Homo sapiens: one gene and its partner. The protein of the gene in region 2 purifies or fractionates together with the protein of the main gene of each other region. This does not show direct contact. Each region holds a gene or a part of one and is shown on either strand. Other genes may lie near its edges.

Region 1 (3,816 bases), on a different chromosome or scaffold from region 2:
TATCTATAGCTAATTGAAAAGACTAAAGAATTAAGCTCTTCTCATGGAAGAAAGGAAAGTAGGACTTAATGTCCTGACCTTGATTTGAGAACTATATTGTTGTAGAACATACTGAAAGGTACATGTTTAATAGCTTGGGAAAAATCTTAAAAAAAAAAAAAAAAACACAGTTTTTGAACCTGGCCATGTCACTGAGTCTAGTACATGACAAACCTAGGAAGTTGGTAGCAGAACACAGGGTCAAAATAAAATACAAGAAATCACTGTAGCCTGATAATCTGCAAGACACACCAAGCAGACAAGTGGTAAGACAGTGGGAAGTGTGCACACATTTAAAGCAACAATTCTGAAATGTGTCCATGTGGTGAAGTGTGCACCTACCTGGAAGCCATGAGCACCCTGCAGAACACCTGAAACATTGATAAGTGTAAATCTGTAATAGAAACTGAGAACATCAGAGCTAAATGACAACTTAGGAACACAAAGGAGGAGACAGCAGACACTGGGGGAGGGTAGCAAGAGAGAGAGGAGCAGAAAGATAACTGTTGGGTACTGGGCTTAATTGGGTCCTGGGTGATGTAATAATATGTATGACAAACCCTCGTGGCAGGTGTTTAACTGTGTAACGGACCTTCACATGTACCCCCAAACCTAAAATAAAAATTTAAAAAAGAAAAACAACCTAAGAACAATTTTATACCTATCATGTTATTTAAAAGTTAGATATACCATATAAAATTTTAATTCCAAATGTGCTTTGGACATTTGTGTGTGCAACAACAAAAACAAGCCTAATAAACTGAGTTTGGGGGATTTAAAAAATATTTCTTCATCCAAAGGGAATATTTACCTGCTATTTTGGTGGCAGGCACTAAAAATTAAAGTAGTTTCTGGGAGCAAAATTCAAAATTGAGAAATTTTCTTCATTTGATTTTTTTTCTGTCAGTGAAAATTAGTTTATTTTAGTGATAGACTGTATATTCCATGAAAGAGTGGTATAAGAGTGCTATAAAAAGCCTGGGATAAAGCAACAGTGAGCAAGAAAACAAACTGTTAATGAGTTTTAATGATAAAGAGTTTTTGCTGGCCTGAAAGTGTCTGCAAGGCAGTCATCGATTCCCTATAAGCGAGGTGGACCCTCCACTTGGAAGAAGGCATTTCACTGTACCTTACTTAGATGAGGATGCGGGGACAAAAGTTTACACCTCTCTTAATGAGTACAGCCTTATGGACACAAGACAGTCTGGATCATAACAGGCCACTAAGTAGGCTGTACAGTCAGATGCAGCAGGTTCTCAGGAGCCAGTCAGCCTTGCTGAGCACTGGTAGTGGTATCTACTGCAGTGGTACTCTGAAACAGCAGTACCAGAAGGTACTAGAGGGAGAAAGCAGAGGCAGAGAGTGTGCAAGGGCCACCATCAGAAATGATCCAGGCCTCTTGGACTGAATCCTAATAATTCATTCAGTCATTCAGTAAATGTTTGAATTCCTGCTATATCAGGCCCTGTTCTGATAGCTGGGAATATAGTCAACAGTAGACCTCATCCCTGCTTCCATGGAACACATATTGAGAGAGCTTATATTATAATTGGGCCCACAGATAAACCACTTCATTAAATACTAAGAGAAAGCTTCACTAAATTAGTCTATTATGCAAATAATTTTAAAGACAATTTAAGTTTTACTTCAAACATAATTCAGTCTGGGTTAATATTCGTATGCATTTGCATTCTCTGTCCACAGTAACTCCTGCCTTCAGGAGGCATTCTAGAAGGATTCAGCTCTTAAACTGTGTGCTGTGGTGGTTACCTACCTGTTCACAATGCTTTTGATGTTGTTCCAGTAAAAGAGTGATCTGTAGCGTTTTGTTTTCCTCAGTATTAAGCAGACATTAATTGTCTTCATTTCCATTGGCAGAGCTTTTATCTCAGTTATCAGGAGTGAGACGTTCTGCAGGAGGACAGCTTAATTCCTCTGGCCCTTCCGCTTCTCAGTTACAACAACTGCAGATGCAGCTGCAGCTAGAACGGCAGCATGCCCAGGCAGCACGGCAACAACTGGAGACCGCACGCAACGCAACCCGGCGTACTAACACAAGCAGTGTCACCACTACAATCACACAATCCACAGCAACAACCAACATAGCTAATACAGAAAGCAGTCAGCAGACTCTACAGAATTCCCAGTTTCTTTTAACAAGGTAGCTCATTTGTTAATAGAATTTTGTTTGGGAAGTAATATTTTATTGCCACTACAGTCTGGAATTATCTTTTCTCTTTTGTGCATTATATTTCTTTAAAATTTTGTGTTTGATTAAAACTCACAGATCTCTGATTAAAACGCATATTCAGTATTTCCCCAAGAATGTGAAACATAGTAATTATTTTAGATAAATTAAGAATACTGGGCCAGACCCAGTGGCTCACACCTGTAATCCCAGCACCTCACACCTGTAATCCCAGCACTTTGGGAGGCCAAGGCAAGCAGATCGCCAGAGCCCAGGAGTTCCAAACCACCCTGGGTAACATGATGAAATCTTATCTCTACAAAAATGAGCCAGGTGTGATGGTGCGCACCTGTAGTCCCCGCTACTCAGGAGGCTGAGGTGGGAGGATCGCTTGAGCCCTGGAGACAGAGGTTGCAGTAGCCAAGATTGCACCATGCACTCCAGCCTGGGTGACAAGAGTGAGACCCTGTCTCTAAAATAAAATAACTGGTCTTGTTCTCAAGGTATATATCATCATATAATATGAATTGTTTTGCCATAGTACCCATAAAACTTAAACACTATATCATTATATATATATGGTTCATATTAGGTGTATTTATCATAATTAACGTTGCTTGTTATTGCCAGTTTTAATCTGCTTTGAAATATTAAAAGTATAAGAAGGATTTCATAATACAGTGGCAGTTTTCTCCTGTGAATTTCTAAAAAAGCTAGATTTAAATTTTTATGGTTGGCACACAAAAGTAACTTAAAAAAATGGCTTCCTATGGTATAAATAATATTTAGTAAAACAGTAAACTACTCTACTAGATGGAGTTCTTGTTTGCTTCTGAAACTGTTAGCAACTGCATGTATTTGTCTGCCAAAACTTCACAGGCATTTTATGTGACTTTTAGGAATATAAAGAATTCTTAAAAGAGCAATGATGAGTGGAGACTTAGCCTCAACAGATAATGAACCTGGACTAATTGGGCTTTTAAGGGAGCAGAGAGGAACATAAAGGAAGAACTGTAAAATGAAGAATAAAGTTTGTGTAATACATGATTATTTCCAAAATGCAGTGTGTATGACAATTCATTGGGATGTTAGAGGAAAATATTATAATTTCTACTTATGTTTCTTTTATCTCATACTCTGTTAATACAGTGGTGCATGTGTATAGTTATAAATAACATATTGTGGGTGCAGAATAAAAAATGCTTGAAAATCCCTGGGCTAGAGCCCCAGCTTTGCCAATTACAAGTTTTGGACCTCAGGCAAGTCATTTCACTCCTCCAAACCTCAATTTTATCATCAGTATCCCAGAAGTTTTGCCTTTAGAGAGATAATTATTTTGAGGATTAAATGGAATACTGGTATGTGTATGGTCTGGCTCACTATCTGGCCTATAGTAAAGGTCCAATTAATGGTACTCGTTATCAACATTTGTTATGAAACCAAGAAAAACATTTTAAATGGGTAATTTACCTTTGAATTATCTCTGCAAGGTCAGTAACTGTGCCTGGTTATTACCAGATAATGCTGCTTTAATGTAAGAAAACCACAGAGCCACAGATGGAGCTACCTGCTGCCATGTAGCCTTCCCC
Region 2 (3,816 bases):
CCTACTCCCATGAGGGTGGTCCTCCCACACACACAGCAGGGGGGACAGGGCAGCACCCCACATACCCAGGTGGTGAGAGACGGGAAGAAGGGGGTGCTGCAGGGAGGAGGTGAGGACTGAGAATGGTGGAAAAGCAAAAATATCAAGACAGCCGAGCAGACAGACAGAGGAGGAGAGAAAAGGAGAAAGCGCGTCTGAGACAGAGGCACCGACGGCAGTGAGCTATCTAGATGATAGATGGGGGGCGCAGGGGACACGGGCACCTGCTTCCCTCCCGCAGCCCAGAGGCCCGGGAGACAATTGACACCTGGTCTGGCTGAACCACGAGAATGCAGCCTGTGACCAGCCCAGAGGGAGAGGGGAGCAGTGGAAGCAGCTGTGGGGCGCAGAGGCCTCTTCTGCCCAGAGCCCGGTGGCACAGCCCAGGAGGGGTGCAGCCATGCAGGCAAGCAGGCATTGGGGGGTGGCATGTTCCAGCAAAGAGCAGGGCTCCCGTGCCCTGGCCTGACTGGACCCCTCCCCTAGAGCTTTTCTCCCTTCAGGCCCCAAGTGCCCCACCACCAGCTCTCTTTAAGGGGCACTCTCTCCTTCCACCACAGAAGAAACAGCTGCACAGCCAGGGTGCATGCTGTTATCGGGGGCTCCCGGTCTGCAGGCTGCATGCTGTAGGACGTCCCCTCTCATGGGGACATTCATGGGCAGAGAGGAGAGTCAGTGAGACCTCACAGCACTTGCTGCTCTGAGGGCAGAGCTGGTGGTGCAGGGGTCTCAGTTCAGAGCTGGGCAGGACCACAGACCCCAAAGTCACTCTCAGCAAATGCCTCCCCTCTCCGGTTAGTCAGCTGCCCAGTGATCCCGCTGGGTTTGTGCCCTTTCCGCCCGGGTGCTCCTAGGTCCCGGGCCCCTCTCTGGACTCAGAACTGAGAAGACAAGGAGTCCTGGCTCAGTCCCACCCCTGCCCCCCCTCGGAGGGCAAGCCTGGCACAGCGCCTGGCCTCTGTGAATGACAGCCGCTGTTGTTAATGGGGGTTTTATAGTTATTTCTTCACAACCCTCATCACCCAAGATCAGGGTTCCCCTGGACTCAGGCTTGCTGAACCTCCGGGTCACATCCTCTCAGCCCCCCGCTATAGGCTGACTCCCAAGCTTCCCTGTCAGGGGAGCGTCTGGACCCCGGACCCGGGGAGAGCCCCCACTGCACTGCGGCGTGTGGGAGGGGTTGAGGGGGGTTGGGCTAACTCCCCAGGCTGGGTGAGAGGGTGAACAGAGCGAGGCCAGCTGGGGACGCAGGCAGCGGAGGTCAGCAGGGAAGATGCAGGCCCAACCAGCTCTGAGACCCAGGTAAGCTGCAGGCCCTCTCCGAGCCTGTTTCTCCCCGTGTGGCAAGGTGAGTACCACCCAGCTCCAGAGTTCCCCCGAAATCCCAGACATGACAGAGACACACACGCTCAGTCCAGGGCAGGAGGCCCCACAAACACACCACCCCAGGCTCCCGCTTGTGTGGCCACACTCTTGCAGGGACACCCGTCAGCTCCAGGAGCAGGTGGGGGGAAGCGCAGTCTGTGTCCTGGCCTCCCAGGAGCAGGGACGTGAGGCTCGGCCAGGGAAATCTCATTTGCAGCAGCTCATAAGCCCTGGCACAGGCTCTTCCCTGAGCCAGGCTGGCCAAGGCTCCCGGAGGTGTCATTGTCACCATCCGTGTCATTGCCATTACTGAGGATTAGGAGGACCAAGGACTCCTGGGGCCCAGCCAGATCTCTCAGGTAGGCAGCTGCCTCACCCCTTGCTGCTGGAACCCTAGCACCAGGACAGGAACTCTGCCCTCAGGGACAAAGCCTGCCACCCCCCGGGGAAGAGACTCAAGCCGGGGGTCTGAACACCAGTCTTTTCACTGCCTAGAGCTCCTTGGAGCTCCCTTGTCATGGAGCTCCCTGGGCCTCAGTTCCTTGTCTGTAAAATGGGAGGATTATACCTTCACCATGGAACTACCGTTCGGTAAGTTAACTTTTTGGATTTCCAGCACAATGAGCCCTTACTGCAGGGCATAGATGGTGCGGGGAAGGGTCCTGGGATTGAATGCTGAGCTGTGTGACATCAGGCACATTACCTAACTCCTCTGGGCTTCAGTCTCCTGGCCTCTAAGACAGTCATATACCCCTTATCCAATGCTCCTTTGTGTCTGACATTTGATGTTCCTCGAATCTTATATCAACCCCACACAGCTGGTGCTGTCAGCCTCATCTTACAGATGAGAAGACAGAGGCTCTCTCCTCCCCGGCTTCCCTCCAAAGGGCTGGGACCATGGCAGGGGCGGGACATGCACTGAGCCAGTCTACTGGGTTTTCTGCCCCTGTCAGAGGAAAGCGTGCAAGGGGGAGTTGTCCACAAGCCTCGAGAGATTTCGATGTTTCCATCAATCAGGAAGTACTGATTCCAGGCCAGCTGTGCTCCTCAAACCCCTAGGCACACTCCCCACCCCAGGACCTTTGCTCTTCTCTCTGCCTGGAATGTTCTTCCCCCAGAATCCCCATAATCCACCTGAGATCTCTGCTCAACCACTCCCTGCCCCTGACCCCCACCTTCTCTAGCCCCCCAGTCTGAGATAACTCACTCCTCACCCAACCCAGGCTTCGGTCCCCTGACAGCAGCCAGCACTACCTGACGTCACTTAATTCTTCATCATCGCCCTGCCTTGCCCCACCCCCAGCAGAAAAGCAAAGCAGGATTTAACTTTGTTCACTGCTGTAACCCCCATGCCTAGAACAGGGTCAGACGTACAGCGGGTTCTCAGGACATGCTGTGTGGAGTGAGAGCTCCAGGCTAGGGATGGTGGGGAGATCCTGGATCCCCTGACTCGGCTGAGTCAGTCCCAGCTACTCCGGAGGCTGAGGCAGGAAAATGGCATGAACCCGGGAGGCGGAGCGTGCAGTGAGCCGAGATCGCGCCTCTGCACTCCAGCCTGGGCGACAGAGTGAGACTCCGTCTCAAAAAAAAAAAAAAAAAAAAAAAAAAAAAAAAAAAAGAATCTTCAATATCAGAGGGAGAAGCCCCCCCTGTGATGGGGTGCTCATGATGGGGCACAAAATGTGCCGAGCCTTCCTTTTAGTTTCACGGCCGTCCTTATGCCTCCCATTTTACAGGCAAGGAACTGAAACTCAGAGAGGTGCAGTGATGCACCCAAGACCACACAGCCAAGAACCCAGGCCAGCCTGAGCTAGTGGAACCAGCAGACTTTCCAAGGCTCCTCCCTGGAAGACGATGTCCCGTCACCTGCAGACCTCCAGTAACAGGGCTCTCAGCGCCCACCTAAAGCTACTGGTTCTCCTTTTTTTTTTCCTTTTCTTTGCTCACTGCCGCCTCTGCCTCCCAGGTTCAAGTGATTCTCCTGCCTCAGCCTCCTGAGTAGCTGGGACTACAGGTGCATGCCGCCACGCCCAGCTAATTTTTGTATTTTTAGTAGAGACGGGGTTTCACCACGTTGGCCAGGATGGTCTCCATCTCTTGACCTTGTGATCCGCCCGCCTCGGCCTCCCAAAGTACTGGGATTATAGGCGTGAGCCACCACGCTGGCCTTTTTTTTTTTTTTTTTTTTTAAAAACAGACTCTAGCTAGCTCTGTCACCCAGGCTGGAGTGCAGTGGCACGATCTCGGCTCACTGCAACCTCTGCCTCTAGGGCTCAAGCAATTCTCGTGTCTCAGCCTCCCAAGTAGCTGGGACCATAGGCGCATGCCACGACGCCCAGCTAATTGTTTTGTATTTTTGGTAGAGATGGGGTTTCACCACGTTGCCCAGGCTGGTCTTGAACTCCTCAGCTC

What was found.
Region 1: the proteins of ELFN2 (region 2) and KCMF1 purify together in Homo sapiens (affinity purification with mass spectrometry; one large-scale study listed by BioGRID and IntAct). This does not show direct contact.

Annotation. Positions count from the first base shown.
Region 1 is NC_000002.12:85,047,449-85,051,264, forward strand, and holds part of KCMF1 (E3 ubiquitin-protein ligase KCMF1), read left to right. Parts: intron 1-1,917; coding exon 1,918-2,200; intron 2,201-3,816. UniProt on the Homo sapiens protein: E3 ubiquitin-protein ligase which accepts ubiquitin from an E2 ubiquitin-conjugating enzyme and then transfers it to targeted substrates, promoting their degradation by the proteasome.
Region 2 is NC_000022.11:37,378,970-37,382,785, forward strand, and holds part of ELFN2 (protein phosphatase 1 regulatory subunit 29 precursor), read right to left. Parts: intron 3,391-3,816; exon of another isoform or gene 3,141-3,390; intron 1,996-3,140; exon of another isoform or gene 1,900-1,995; intron 1,342-1,899; exon of another isoform or gene 1,263-1,341; intron 1-1,262. UniProt on the Homo sapiens protein: Inhibits phosphatase activity of protein phosphatase 1 (PP1) complexes.